Linked DNA regions of Homo sapiens. The protein of the gene in region 1 interacts with the protein of each later gene in a pairwise test. Each region holds a gene or a part of one and is shown in the gene's direction. Other genes may lie near its edges.

What was found. Proteins that work in one complex are often made in the same cells at the same time.
Region 2: the proteins of CREB5 (region 1) and PCSK5 interact in binary tests that used the Homo sapiens proteins (3 or more experiments, as listed by UniProt).

Annotation. Positions count from the first base shown.
Region 1 is NC_000007.14:28,800,493-28,807,528, forward strand, and holds part of CREB5 (cyclic AMP-responsive element-binding protein 5), read left to right. Parts: intron 1-3,706; coding exon 3,707-4,030; intron 4,031-7,036. UniProt on the Homo sapiens protein: Binds to the cAMP response element and activates transcription.
Region 2 is NC_000009.12:76,320,647-76,327,682, forward strand, and holds part of PCSK5 (proprotein convertase subtilisin/kexin type 5 isoform 3 precursor), read left to right. Parts: intron 1-775; coding exon 776-993; intron 994-2,405; coding exon 2,406-2,642; intron 2,643-6,890; exon of another isoform or gene 6,891-7,036. UniProt on the Homo sapiens protein: Serine endoprotease that processes various proproteins by cleavage at paired basic amino acids, recognizing the RXXX[KR]R consensus motif. Likely functions in the constitutive and regulated secretory pathways.

The DNA of each region.
Region 1 (7,036 bases):
ACAAGGGTTAAAGCCAAGGGTGAGGAAGTAGAGGCAGGGAGAAGGGATACATGGCCCTTATCATGTCTGTGTTTTGGAGTAGGGGAAATGTAAGTGTCAGTTCTTCACAAATACAACAAGGGAGATGAAGATGCTGAGCCCTGGACAATCCTTTCTTTGCTGCAGATGAGGTTCCTGGAAATTCTTTACCATCCACTCTCCCTTCCACTAAATTTCAGAAAGAGTGCATCCAGGTCCCTAGCTGTGTGCTGAGTAACACTTGCACGTGGCCATTGCTGGACCATTCGGCAATAACGTCTCCTCTTGTCAGCTCTTCTAGCCCCTTCTCGCGCTTTCTGCTTTTCCTTTTGATGATGGGGAGGTGGCAAAACACAGTTCATTTCTCTCTTTGGCAAAGTGTGAATGGCATGGCTTGTGGCACCTTCTCTCTTGGTTTAGAGAACAGGCTTTGGAGTTAGAGTGGCTTTGCCTCTCCTTTAGCCTTACACGGTTGTTCTGAGGATTAGGTAGCTTGATACTTGTAAAACATATAGAACAAGGACTGGCACATAGCATGTACTTAGTTAATGTTAGCCATTATTATTACCTATTTTTGCAGATATAGAAGGCTGTCAAAGATATATTGCTAAAGGGACAAAAAGCAAGATACAAAACTATGTATTAAAACAGCTTGATTTTGTGCAAAGCAAATGTCTGAGGATATGTGGTGGTTACATCTGAGGAACAGGACTGGGGTTTAGGGGAGAAGGCTAGGCAAGTGGCTTTTACTTTATTATCTAATATTTTTGTAGTAATTGATTTTTTATTATAAAAAGTATACTTTTATAGTAATGAAATTACAAGGAATAGTTTAGAAAGTCCATACTTTCCATCATGTCATTTTTTTAAAAAGGCATGATGATTTCAACATAACCTCTTTTCATATTTTTTCATCCTTAAATTCGGAAGTATCATCCAAAAACTTCTCCTGGGGGTAAAGAAACATGTATCTAAAACCCAGCAATTCCCCAGATTTTCATTTCTTTGCTGTGCCATAGTCAAATAAAAGTTTTTAAAATTACATGCTATTTTAATTCCACAGTTACAAAATTATTCTAGTTATTCTTTCATCTCTCCATATACATATATAGAGTTGTCTGGAATGCTGTTCACCCACCAGATATAAACAACGCATTTGGCTTCATTGTTGCTGACTTCATTGCAAAGCATTGCTTAAATTTTTATAATAAGCATTTTTATAAAAACAATGAAATCATTGCTTAAAATTGGAGATGAGAAGTGTTAGTTCACTTTTCTGTTTAGAAGTAAACATGGCCGGGTGTGGTGGCTCACGCCTGTAATCCCAGCTCTTTGGGAGGCCGAGGCAGGTGGATCACGAGGTCAAAAGATGGAGACCATCACAGCCAACATGGTGAAACCCTGTCTCTACTAAAAATACAAAAATTAGCTGGGCATGGTGGCACACGCCTGTAGTCCCAGCTACTCAGGAGGCTGAGGCAGGAGAATCGCTTGAACCCGGGAGGCAGAGGTTGCAGTGAGATCTTGCCACTGCACTCCAGCCTGGCGACACAGCGAGACTCCATCTGAAAAAAAAAAAAAAAAAAAAAAAAAAAGGAGGAAACACAGTACCCAGCATCTAATCTTTCCCAGACATTTAGGATGCTGAACTTCTTCAGGATTATGAAGGTCAGTAGCTGTTGTGCAGTATCTGTTGCTCATGAAAGAGGTGAGAAGTAGACTATGTGGCTACCGAATCGGGATGACAAAAATATTTTAAATGATGACCGCATATTAACATACAGTCTACCATCCTTTCCTCTTGTTTTTTATTTATTTTTTTTCTTAGCAGGTAGAGGCTCTTTATGTTTAATTAAGGATTTTGATTAATTGAATTGGTATTTTTCAATAGTGTATGTAACTGGTTGAGAATCATTAATATTGTACAGTGTTAGAGCATAGTAGCTTTGATCGTCATTTAAATACAACTGTTTCCTTGCCCAGCAATTATACACCACTATCATGAATCAGATAAGAACACAAATCTGGAAAGAACTTGCAGTCCCCTGGTAAATACTTCATGAAGGCAATGGGAGCTTGCCAATTAGACAATCATCTCTGCATAAGATATATTTCCAACGAGTAACTGCATTATACAGTCCTTAGCACATTATGCCCCTCGGGATATGATGATAATTGACTGTGTCACAGAAGAAACAATTTTGAAGAAACTGGGACTAAGCTGATTATCAACTGAATCTTTAGAACGGGGTTAGCAAATGATGGCCCAAGGGCCAAATCTGGCCCGCTGCCTAATTTTGTCCAGTGTATGAGCTAAGAATGGTTTTCAAGTTTTAAGTGACTGGGGAAAAAAATCAAAAGTAGAATAACATTTCTGACATGTAAAAATTATATGAAATTCAGATTTCCTGTCCCTGAAGTTGTATCAGAACATAGCAGATTCATTCATTTATACATTGTCTGCAGCTGCTTTTGCACCACAGTATCAGAGTTGAGTAGTTGTGACACAGAAGATAAGAGAAGAAAATACTGACTATCTGACTCTTTATAGAAAAAGTTTGCTGACCCCTCCTTTAGACTCAGGTACAAGTTATTTGTGTGCATGTCTGCTTATGAATGGATAATGCTTTTGTGTTAGAAATACATCTGGCCAGTTGATGTGGCCATCAAAGGAGGTGCAATACTTCATATTCTTCTATTTTCCTCACTCCCTTCTCAAAGTCAAAAGAAAGCTATTGAGTGAGAAAAATTAAGAGTATTGGAAGGGACCATAAGAAAAATCATGGTAACAGAAAAGACCTACACATTACCTCCGAAGCTTGTAAATTACTAACTCTAATTTTAAGCCCTAAAATCAGATTAGCTCTCTACTTTTTAAAATTTGAAATTATTTATTCTCTGTGTCTGAGAAATATTTTGAGAGGCAAGAGCATTTGTTCTTGTGACTCTTACAAGATACAGTGGCTGGCCGGGCACGGTGGCTCACGCCTGTAATCCCAGCACTTTAGGAGGCCGAGGCAGATGGATCACGAGGTCAGGAGTTCAAGACCAGCCTGGCCAAGATGATGAAACCCCATCTCTACTAAAAATACAAAAATTAGCTGGGCATGGTGGCAGATGCCTGTAATCCCAGCTACTCAGAAGGCTGAGGCAGAGAATTGCTTGAAGCTGGGAGGCGGAGGTTGCAGTGAGCCGAGATCGCACCACTGCACTCCAGCCTGAGTGACAGAGCAAGACTCCATCTCAAAAAAAAAAAAAAAAAAAAAAATTAAATACAGTAGCACACCAGATGGAGTCTCTTTGTTCAGTGCTATCACCATATTGAATGGTGCTCTTTGGTGTATGCTTGCATTCAGTTGTAGATACGATATAATGCATGATTGGATAATAGGAAATACCTTTTAGTAGAATGTATGATTCTTGATAGGATATCCTGCCCATTGGCTTTGACAGTTGAATTAACCTATTTGGCTGACATTGACCCTCCTACTGACCACGATATATAAGAAAATATGAAATTAATATAAAAGCTATCTTGTACTGGTAGCAAGATAGCTACTGGTAGGAAACATTAACAATAGCATCGTAAAATATAGAATTGAAAATGTGAGTCATTTTGCTTTTAAATCTCTATCATGTACATGACTGACTTCAGTTGTTCTCTCTCCTCCCTTTTGTTCTGTTTCAGAGGTTGAAGGCTGCATTGACTCACCACCCTGCTGCCATGTCAAATGGGAACATGAACACCATGGGACACATGATGGAGATGATGGGCTCCCGGCAGGACCAGACGCCACACCATCACATGCACTCGCACCCGCATCAGCACCAGACACTGCCACCCCATCACCCTTACCCACACCAGCACCAGCACCCAGCACACCATCCTCACCCTCAACCCCATCACCAGCAGAACCATCCACATCACCACTCCCATTCCCACCTTCATGCACACCCAGCACATCACCAGACCTCGCCACATCCGCCCCTGCACACCGGCAACCAAGCACAGGTAGACCTTTTCCGTGATCTCTTTCCCCTTCTTATTCTCCTTCTTAACAGTGCAAGCTCTAATGCTGGGGTCATTTGCAGCAATCTTGTTTGACAAGCCCAGGTGTTCTATCTCACATTCTAGGGGCTCTGTTTATCTCCTAGGAGGCAAGCCTTACCCATAAGACCCTACCAGATCATAATTTCTATAAATAATACACTAAAAAATATCAGGTCTAGTCTCTAAGGGCAAGCATAAACTTTAAGTTCTCCAAAATCTATTTTTGCAGTGTGTCAGAAAGTTAGCCCCTCTCAAAAGTAATATGAATCAATGGATTAGGAAGAACTTAAGCTTGTGAAGAAAGATGTGAATTAAGAATGAGAAAAACGAGTTAATTCTAACCCTGGTTCTAGCTGCTATGTTTTAAAACATCATAGAGACTCAATTTTGTCACCTGTAAAATGGAAGTTAAATACAACAGGCAATCTTCTGAGTAACAGTGAATGTTAAAAATCTAAAGAGTAACAATTCAAGGCAGACAAAGAAGCTCCATCATGGATGCTAGGGCGTAAGGTGCTGTGTAAATGGTGAAGAGAGGTGACTCATCCCCCTGAATGAGAAATGCGTTGGAGGGAACAGAAAGAGAGCCAAGTTCTGTAGATGATCAGACCAAGAGAAAGGCCAAATCCCAGTGGGTGAGAGTCACCAGGAGTGGCTGCAAAGAAAGCCAGCATTTAGACAAAACTGAAAGAGGGTTGGGGGACCAGGCAGACATTATGTCACCCACGGCCAAGAAGAGAGGCGAGTCCTGTACTGGAGTGAGTTTTAGTAAGTGGATGAAGGGCATGTCCAGGAGCATGGCTGGGCCTAGACACTTTGGATCCTCAAGCAGAATGACTTTCATCCATACCTTCCACCCAGTCCACACTGCCAGCTTCCAACCAGCTGAATCAGAAGGGTGTCGGAAGCATGGAACCGCCAAAAAACACTTATTCACTGTCTCCTCTGTCATCTGCCTCTGGAGACGTGACTTTATACCCGGCAGCTTTTTGAACTCTTGAGCCCCCCTCCATTAACATGCACCAAACCTGGACAGCCATCCACAGAATGGGTCAGGCACAAGCAACTCTCGAAGCTATTCATTAGATAAACTGTCTTTTGCAAGGTTCTTAGAGGTGTTCTACATTGTGAATAAGAATTGAGCATTAGAATGAGATAACCTTAATTTTTTTCCTGCCTTCCTCACTGTGTGATTGTGAACAGAAACAACCTCTCTACCCCTCAGTTTTCCCATCTGTAAAATGGGGCTGGGTAATAGTAGACTAAACTCCTAGGCTCTTATGAGTATTAAATAAGAGAATCTCTGTAAAGCCCTTGACACAGTGTTCAAAATATGTTATTCCAAACCAGTAGAAGTTTAGCAAATTGTATAGCAATCAAATGCTATCCAGAGAACATTTTTAGTCACATTTTTAGTCAAACGCCATACTAGAACATGTATTTAGAAAGAAAAAAAAAAACTACAAAGTCAATGATGGGCAAATTGATTCACATTTGTACTTAGTTTATAAGGAAACGAGAACATCAAGGTTTGGTTGCCTTTATGGGCAAGTTATTTCACAGAGCAAGTTATATAACAATTCTTTGAATATAAAAGCCATTCACTAGCTAATTACCAATTAGCCAATTGCCCTCTGTTTCAAGTCAGTAAGTGGCCAATAGTATATGCAATTAGTTAATTGCTATTATAATTAGCTTTATGAACAGTTGCTTTTTTTAATTGTATGCTAAAAAGAAAGAGCCCAGGTTGGTCTTGCTAAAATTTGAACCAGATCATTTAGGCAGTATCCCAAAATACCACTCTTAAATTGTATTAACTTGGCTGATTACTGAGATCTTGCCATTTTGCTTAATTGTATGATTATCTGAAAGTAGGAATAGAATCCTTTGAACTCTGAGATTCTAAGGTGATTTGGAATAAAATCTGCCTTTTTGAAATTATAATTTATTACTTTTGATCAAAATTTTCAGAGCATCTATGCCAAGAGAATTCTGCTTTAAAAATAAAATTACAAGCGACAATAATTACCAGGTATACAAATTCTGGTTTTAGGGTTGTATTTGCATTTTCTCCTGGCTTCTTGTGCTCCTCCTGCATGTAAGGATGTGATTGTAGAGTGCTGGTTTCAAGGAATTTCTCTTAATCAATCCTGAACCTAATTACACCTGAAACCACGTCACTTATGCCTTTGGGTGAAGGCACAGGAAAAGTATCATGGGTTACAGGTTGATTAAACTTAGGGTAGGAGGATACAGAATTGAAAGATAAGTCCCTGCAATGGAGATTAAAAATCAATTTTTTCCTATTTGAGGGTTTTGTCTGGGGCTGGCAATAAGAGATTATAATTCACAAAAGGAAACAGTTAAAGGCAAAAATATCCGAGCAGTTAGCACATTCCCTCTTAATGCTTTTCTTTGCAGTAGTTAGCTCAGGAATTAGCATCTGGAATGACAAGTGCTAAGCCCCTGCCAATAACAAGGATGACGCCTTCACTAGCAACTCTGATGAGTAAGACCTTAGACAGTTAATTTATTTTGTTATTCCTCTATAATCGGGAGGAAAAGAGTCACCAACAAACAAACAGTTCTAGAAAATGTCTTTGCTGGCCTGGTGCGGTGGCTCACGCCTGTAATCTCAGCACTTTGGGAGGCTGAGGCGGGTGGATCACGAGGTCAGGAGTTCAAGACCTGCCTGGCCAAGATGGTGAAACCCTGTGTCTACTAAAAAACTACAAAAATTAGCCAGGCATGGTGGCAGGCACCTGTAATCCCAGCTACTTGGGAGGCTGAGGCAGGAGAATCGCTTGAACCTGGGCAGCAAAGGTTGCAGTGAACCGAAATCGCGCCACTGCACTCCAGGCTGGGCGACAGAGAGAGACTCCGTCTCAAGAAAAAAAGAAAATGTCTTTGCTTTGCATAAAATTACTAAGATGCAGTTCAACCTCAACCCTGGGCCTGATTCTTTTA
Region 2 (7,036 bases), on another chromosome or scaffold:
TATTTTTAGTAGAGACTGGGTTTTGCCATGCTGGCCAAGCCAGTCTCAAACTCCTGATCTCAGGTGATCCACCCACCTCAGCCTCCCAGAGTGCTGGGATTACAGGCATGAGCCACCCTACCCAACCCATTGTAGCTTTTTAAAATCTTAGTAACTATCTGGTTTTTGGTTTTGTTTTTTTTTTTTTAAGACAGAGTCTCACTCTGTCACCAGGTTGGAGTGCAGTGGCATGATCTCGGCTCACTGCAGCCTCTGCCTCCCGAGTTCAAGTGATTCTCCTGTCTCAGCCTCCCGAGTAGCTGAGACTATAGGCGTGCACCACCACACCCAGCTAATTTTTGTATTTTTTAGTAGAGACAGTGTTTCACCATGTTGGCCAGAATGGTCTCGATCTCCTGACCTGATGACCTGCCCACCTCGGCCTCCCAAAGTGCTGGGATTACAAGCGTGAGCCACCACACCCGGCCAGTTAGCTATCTTTTTAAGGAATAGCGTGGGAGGCAGGTTTACCCTAAGCAGTTCCCAGCTTGATTTTTCCCTTTGGCTTAGTAATACTGGGGTCCCAAGATTTATTTTCCTTTCACAAGAATAATGCTTGTCCTTTTCCTTCCATTTTTCTGAATGTTCTTTTCACTTCCTTATAAATCCCATGGATGCCTCTCAGCTGACGACAGCAGCAGCCCTTTTGTTTTTAGACCTAATTCCTTTTCCCCAGGAATGAGTCACTTCTCCAGCAGGTCAGCTTCTCCAGTTGCACTCTGTCTTCCTTCCACAGGGGCTCTTATGCAGAAGACGGCATATGTGAACGCTGTAGCTCTCCTTGCAGAACATGTGAAGGAAACGCCACCAACTGCCATTCTTGTGAAGGAGGCCACGTCCTGCACCACGGAGTGTGCCAGGAAAACTGCCCCGAGAGGCACGTGGCTGTGAAGGGGGTATGCAAGCATTGCCCAGAGATGTGTCAGGACTGCATCCATGAGAAAACATGCAAAGGTACCTAGGAGCTTCCCACAGGAGAGCAAGGCTCTGCTGAGCCACCAGTTGGGGGCCGATTATCTGAGGGTGGATGGCAAAGAGCTGTGGGAACCAGTCTCCCTACCATTCCTGAAAGGTATGTCTCTGTGCCTGTCATCAGAGAAACTGAGGGTGAGATACACCCTTTTCATTATGGATGCTGCAAGTTAAGACAAGCAAGAGCCCCTTTTTGCATGATCTCTTACACTCACCCCCATATGTACACACACAGCAGATGTGCAAGTGCTATCCTAGGTGCTAGAGGTACAGAGAAGAACCCAATGTTCTCATCTTTTTTTTTTCCTTGAGATGGAGTTTCACTCTTGTTGCCCAGGCTGGAGTGCAATGGCTCAATCTCAGCTCACTGCAACTTCTGCCTCCCATGTTTAAGCGATTCTCCTGCCTCAGCCTCCAGAGTAGCTGGGATTACAGGCACGCTCCACCACGCCGGGCTAATTTTAACATTTTTAGTAGAGACGAGGTTTCTCCATGTTGGTCAGGCTGGTCTCAAACTCCTGACCTCAGGTGATCCACCGTCCTCAGCCTCCCAAAGTGCTGGGATTACAAGCGTGAGGCACCACGCCCAGCTGTTCCCATCTTTTGGAACACAAAATCTTACAGACTGATAGTAAGCCACAAAACACAGAGGTAGCTAGAAAACTGCAGTTGTTAAAAAGGATAGGAAAGAAAAGTTCGGGCAACTATGACTGAGATGACCACTCTGGCTGTGAATGAATTTTGTTGTTTTTTTCCCTCAGGAATTATCTCCCCCAAAAAGCTGTTCAATTTTCTCTCCAGAATAAGACAGACTCATTTAACTGGTGCTGTCCTATCCAAAGTATTCTCTTGGTGTGACCTCAAGTGTTTCCCAGGATTCCCCCCAAAGTAAGAAAATGAACACAAAAAAAATAAACCCGCAATGTATTCTTCACACTGATCAATCCTGTATTCATTGTTGTACCTGATCAATGAATGAAAAGTTAACTAATCCAACCATTCCTAAACTGCTTTCTGTGTTGAAAACAGTGTGAGGTTCTCAATACAATTTTTTAAATCTGTTAATGCTCTTCGGGTTTTTCAAACAATACCGCCAGCCTCTCAGCCATCCCTGTCTTTTGCAGCATTGCAAATTTTTGCACTGCACCTCCAAAGGGCAGACCATTTCATTGTGTAAGTCCAGCACCATCTAATACGGTCACCATGTGTGGCCTCCTTGTCCCAAGGCAGGGCTTGTTAGACATCAAGTCTATGCCCTGGCAGGGTGGGTAAAGGGCAAGCATACTCTCAGGTCAAATCAACCAAAGTGCTGAGGGAGGAGCTAGCCTACTGCAGACAATGAATTCCTTTCTCCTACCCCCCGGGGATAACTTGCTGCTTCCTCCTTTTCCCAGAGTGCACGCCTGAGTTCTTCCTGCACGATGATATGTGCCACCAGTCCTGTCCCCGTGGCTTCTATGCAGACTCGCGCCACTGTGTCCCCTGCCATAAAGACTGTCTGGAGTGCAGTGGCCCCAAAGCCGACGACTGCGAGCTCTGTCTTGAGAGTTCCTGGGTCCTCTATGATGGACTGTGCTTGGAGGAGTGTCCAGCAGGAACCTATTATGAAAAGGAGACTAAGGAGTGCAGAGGTAAAGACTTCTGGGATTCAAAATAGGCTCCGGGGTTTGCATAGTTCCAGCCCCAGCCCCAGCGCCAGAGCTGTCATCTCAATCTTTTTTTTGTTGTGTTTTGTTTTTGTTTTGGGACAAGGTCTCCCTCTATTGCCCAGGCTCAAGTTCAGTAGCACGAACATGGCTCACTGAAGCCTCCGCCTCCTGGGCTCAAGTGATCCTCCCACCTCAGCCTCCAGAGTTGCTGGGAACATAGAGATGAGGTCTCAGAATGTTGCCTAGGCTGGTCTTGAACTCCTGGCTTCAAGCAATCCTCTGCCTTGGGCTCCCAAAGTGCTGGGATTACAGGTGTGAGTCACCATGACCAGTCCATCTCATCCTTTACCATCTCACTCAAGGAGGCATATTTTGAACCGGTTGTAAATAATCTTTAAATGAATCACTCATAAGCTTTGTACAGGTAACTTTTATTAGTGACAAATCACGTGGACCTTCCTCACAACAGTGGCTATGAACTGCTGGTCAAAAGAAGTTATCATATAAAGATTTACAGCAGAGAGGAGGAGCCTTCAAAAGCTACCTGAGACTTTTCTTGATAACACAAGCAAATTGTGACACCATAAGGGACTTTCTTGGTGCCTCTTGTCTCCCTTCCTGGGTGATTTTTTTTTTTTTTTTGAGACAGAGTCTCACTCTGTTGGCTAGAGTGCGGTGGCACGATCTTGGCTTACTATAACCTCTGCCTCCTGGGTTCAAGCGATTTGCCTGCCTCAGGCTCCTGAGTAACTGGGACTACAGGCGTGTGCCACCACGCCTGGCTAATTTTTCTATTTTTAGTAGAGAGGGGGTTTCACCATGTTGACCAGGCTGGTCTTGAACTCCTGACCTCAAGTGATCCACCTGCCTCGCCCTTCCAAAGTGCTGGGATAATAAGCGTGAGCCATGGCGCTCGGTCCATATTTTGTTATTGTTGTTCTTGAGATGGAGTCTCACTCTGTTGCCCAGGTTGGAGTGCAGTGGCATGATCTCAGCTCATCGCAGCCTCCACCTCCTGGGTTCAAGTGGTTCTCCTGCCTCAGCCTCCTGAGTAGCTGGGATTATAGGTGGCTGCCACCACACCTAGCTAATTTTTGCATTTTTAGTAGAGACAGGGTTTCACCATGTTGGCCAGGCTGGTCCTGAATGCCTGATCTCAAGTGATCCGCCCACCCTGGCCTCCCAAAGTGCTGGGATTACAGGTGTGAGCCACCGCGCCCAGCCTCCCTTCATGGTTTGCTCCCTGGAAGCTCCCCACCTTCCTCTTCATATCCTTCAATTCCTGCTCCAAGGTCCCCATTTCCACTCCCACTCAGTCCCTGCATGTTCAAGAAAGGATCTGCTATTATTTATACCTCCTTATGTTTTAACTCGGCATGAATCATTTGCCTCTTATTCATTATCAAGGAACAGAAAAATAAAATAAGTTATGCACTCTAGAATTCTCTAGCAAGTGAGAGAAATGTTGTGGGGCGGGGGCTTTTCTAGAGCCCAGGATTCACTCTGTTGAGGCAGCCTGAGGTCCTTCACCCCCACATGTCGCCCCCAAGCAAACACGACAAGATAGATGTCCAGAGGCAATTCCCCTAACAACCGCGAGAGCCTGAGAGTGACCTTCCACTGAGAAACCCTGGGACACCCACACCCTAGGACATACTGAGGGGAAGGTTTTTAGTAGGACACGAAGATGTGTCTCGGTCCTGAAGGCTTTCTGCTCCAGCCTTGTGCTGTGGATATGTCTTTTTGTGTGTTTTATATAAAGCACTATTTAGTGTTAATGTCCTACCTGCCCATATGTGAAAAGGCGTGGATGTCAAGGCTGTGTCCGCATGCAGAAGAGGCGGGTGTTCGTGTGGGAGGCAGGCTGTGGAGCTGGGAATGGCTTCTGGGAGGTGAGAGACTCAGCAGCAGGCCTCCAGCGCCATCTTGCCTCTGCGAGGGCAGGAACTGAGGTTCAACTTCTGGCCTTTCTCTGGTGTTGAATAATGAAAGTAATTTACCATACAGAGAGCTTTACAGGTCTCAGAGTATGTTTTCTTAATTTATCTGATTTAATTATCTCCTTGAGAAAGGCCCCTGGTTGCCCATTAGAATCACCTGGGCAGCTCTTAAAACCACAGATGCCTGCACCCAACATTCTAATTCCTTCTCCCACCACCAGTAATTCTGATGCTTAGTGTGGGTTGAGAGCCATTGAGGTAAATGGCAATTTTCTGCATTTTTCTGAGAAGGAAACAGATGCTTTGAGAAGTTAAGCACTTGCTCAATGTGACCCCACTAGTGAGGACAGAGTTGGAAACTCACTTGAGGTGTCTCCCTACAATGACATTGCACTTTCTTTTTTTTGAGACGGAGTTTTGCTCTCGTTGCTGCCAGGCTGGAGTGCAATGGCGCGATCTGGACTCACCACAACCTCCGCCTCCCTGGTTCAAGAGATTCTCCTGCTTCAGCTTCCCGAGTGACTGGGATTACAGGCATGTGCCACCACACCCAGCTAATTTTGTATTTTTAGTAGAGACAGAGTTTCTCCATATTGGTCAGGGTGGTCTCGAACTCCTGACCTTAGGTGATCTGCCCGTCTCTGCCTCCCAAAGTGCTGGGATTACAGGCGTGAGCCACCATGCCCGGCCGCCATTGCACTTTCTACCAGACCAAAGGGAGGGGAAGGAATGTGGTATTGGAAGAAACAGTGACAACCTGACTTTCCAGAGAGATAATACAAAGAACCTGATCTGAAAATTAAGATTTGGGGAAGTGTAGAGAAGCGTTTAGAATGGAGCAATCTCAGCCGGACACGGTGGCTCACATCTGTAATCTCAACAACACTTTGGGAGGCCAAGGCAGGAGGATCTCTTGAGTCCAGGAATTTGAGACCAGCCTGGGCAACATAGCAAGACCCTATTTCTAAAACAAAAATAATTATACAAAAATTAGCCAGATGTAGTGGTGTGTGCCTGTAGTCCCAGCTACTCAAGAGGCTGAGATGGGGGGATCACTTTAGCCTGGGAGGTCAATGTTTCAGTGAGCCATGATCACACCACTGCACTCTAGCCTGGGTGACAGAGCAAGAACCTATAGCAAAAAAAAGAAAAAAAAATCTGTAAGCAGGATCTTCTCTAAGAAACACAAGGACTTTGGATCCATTCCAATCACCCAGATTATCCTGTAATAGATAGTACAGACACCTCTAAAAGTCCCATACCTTTCCTGAAGCACTGGAGCAGAAGCAGCAAGGCAGTTGCTAAGGTCCTGGGCTCAACTCCTGATACTACTTAGCGTAAGTGACTTAGCATCTCCAGCCTCAATTTCCTGATTTAGATAAAATGAGAGGATAATATAAACAATAATAATACCATGCATGTATCCACCCAGGGAATGCTTACAGGGGGGCCTGCTATGTGCCGTGTGCTCTTTCAGGTCTGGGGAACAGCAGGGAGTGAGACAGAGTCCCTGCCCTCATGGAGCTCACATTCTGTTAGGGAAGACAGGTACTAACGACCATAAGCCAAGAGCAAAAATAAGGCAGAGGTGCAGGACAGGGAGATAGGCAGGATGGAGATAAAACTTGAGAGATGTCTTAGATTTCATTGAGAAAGGCAGGAAGCAAACCATGCATGCCTCTGGGAGAAGAGAATTGCAGGCAGACAGAATGGCAACTACTAAATCCCAGAGATGGTCGGCCTGGTGCAGTGGCTCATGCCTGTAATCCCAGCCCTTTGGGAGGCCAAGGCAGGAAAATCACTTGAGGCCAGGAGTTCAAGACCAGCCTGGGCAGCAAAGTGAAGGCCCATCTCTATTTTTTTTTTTTTTTTTTTCCTGAGACAGGGTCTCACTCTGTCACCCAGGCTGGAGTGCAGTGGTGCAATCACAGCTCACTGCAGCCTTGACCTCCTGGGCTCAGGAGATCCTTCCACCTTAGCCTCCTGAGTAGCTGGGACTACAGGCACCCGCCACCATGCCCAGCTAATTTTTGTGTTTTTTCTAGAGACAGTGTCTTGCCATGTTGCTCAGGCTGGTCTCGAACTCCTGGGCTCAAACAATCCATCCACCTTGGCCTCCCAAAGTGCTAGGATTACAGGCGTAAGCCACTGCACCCAGCCCCCGTCTCTAGTTAAATACAGAAAAAGAAAACCTAGAGGTGGAAGATAATTGTTATTTTCTTTTTTTAACAAATACTTATCGATTCCTATTACATGCCAGGCCCTCTCATAGGCACTATGTATTCAAAAATAAATGCAAAAGGGACCTTTATTTGTCAACAGACAATTAAATACATTCCAACAATTGCTGTATTCGTGATAAGCTCAAGGTACTCCGGAGGTGAGTGGAGGACCATAACAGTAGGTGTTGTGACGGTGGAAAATTCGATGCCATTA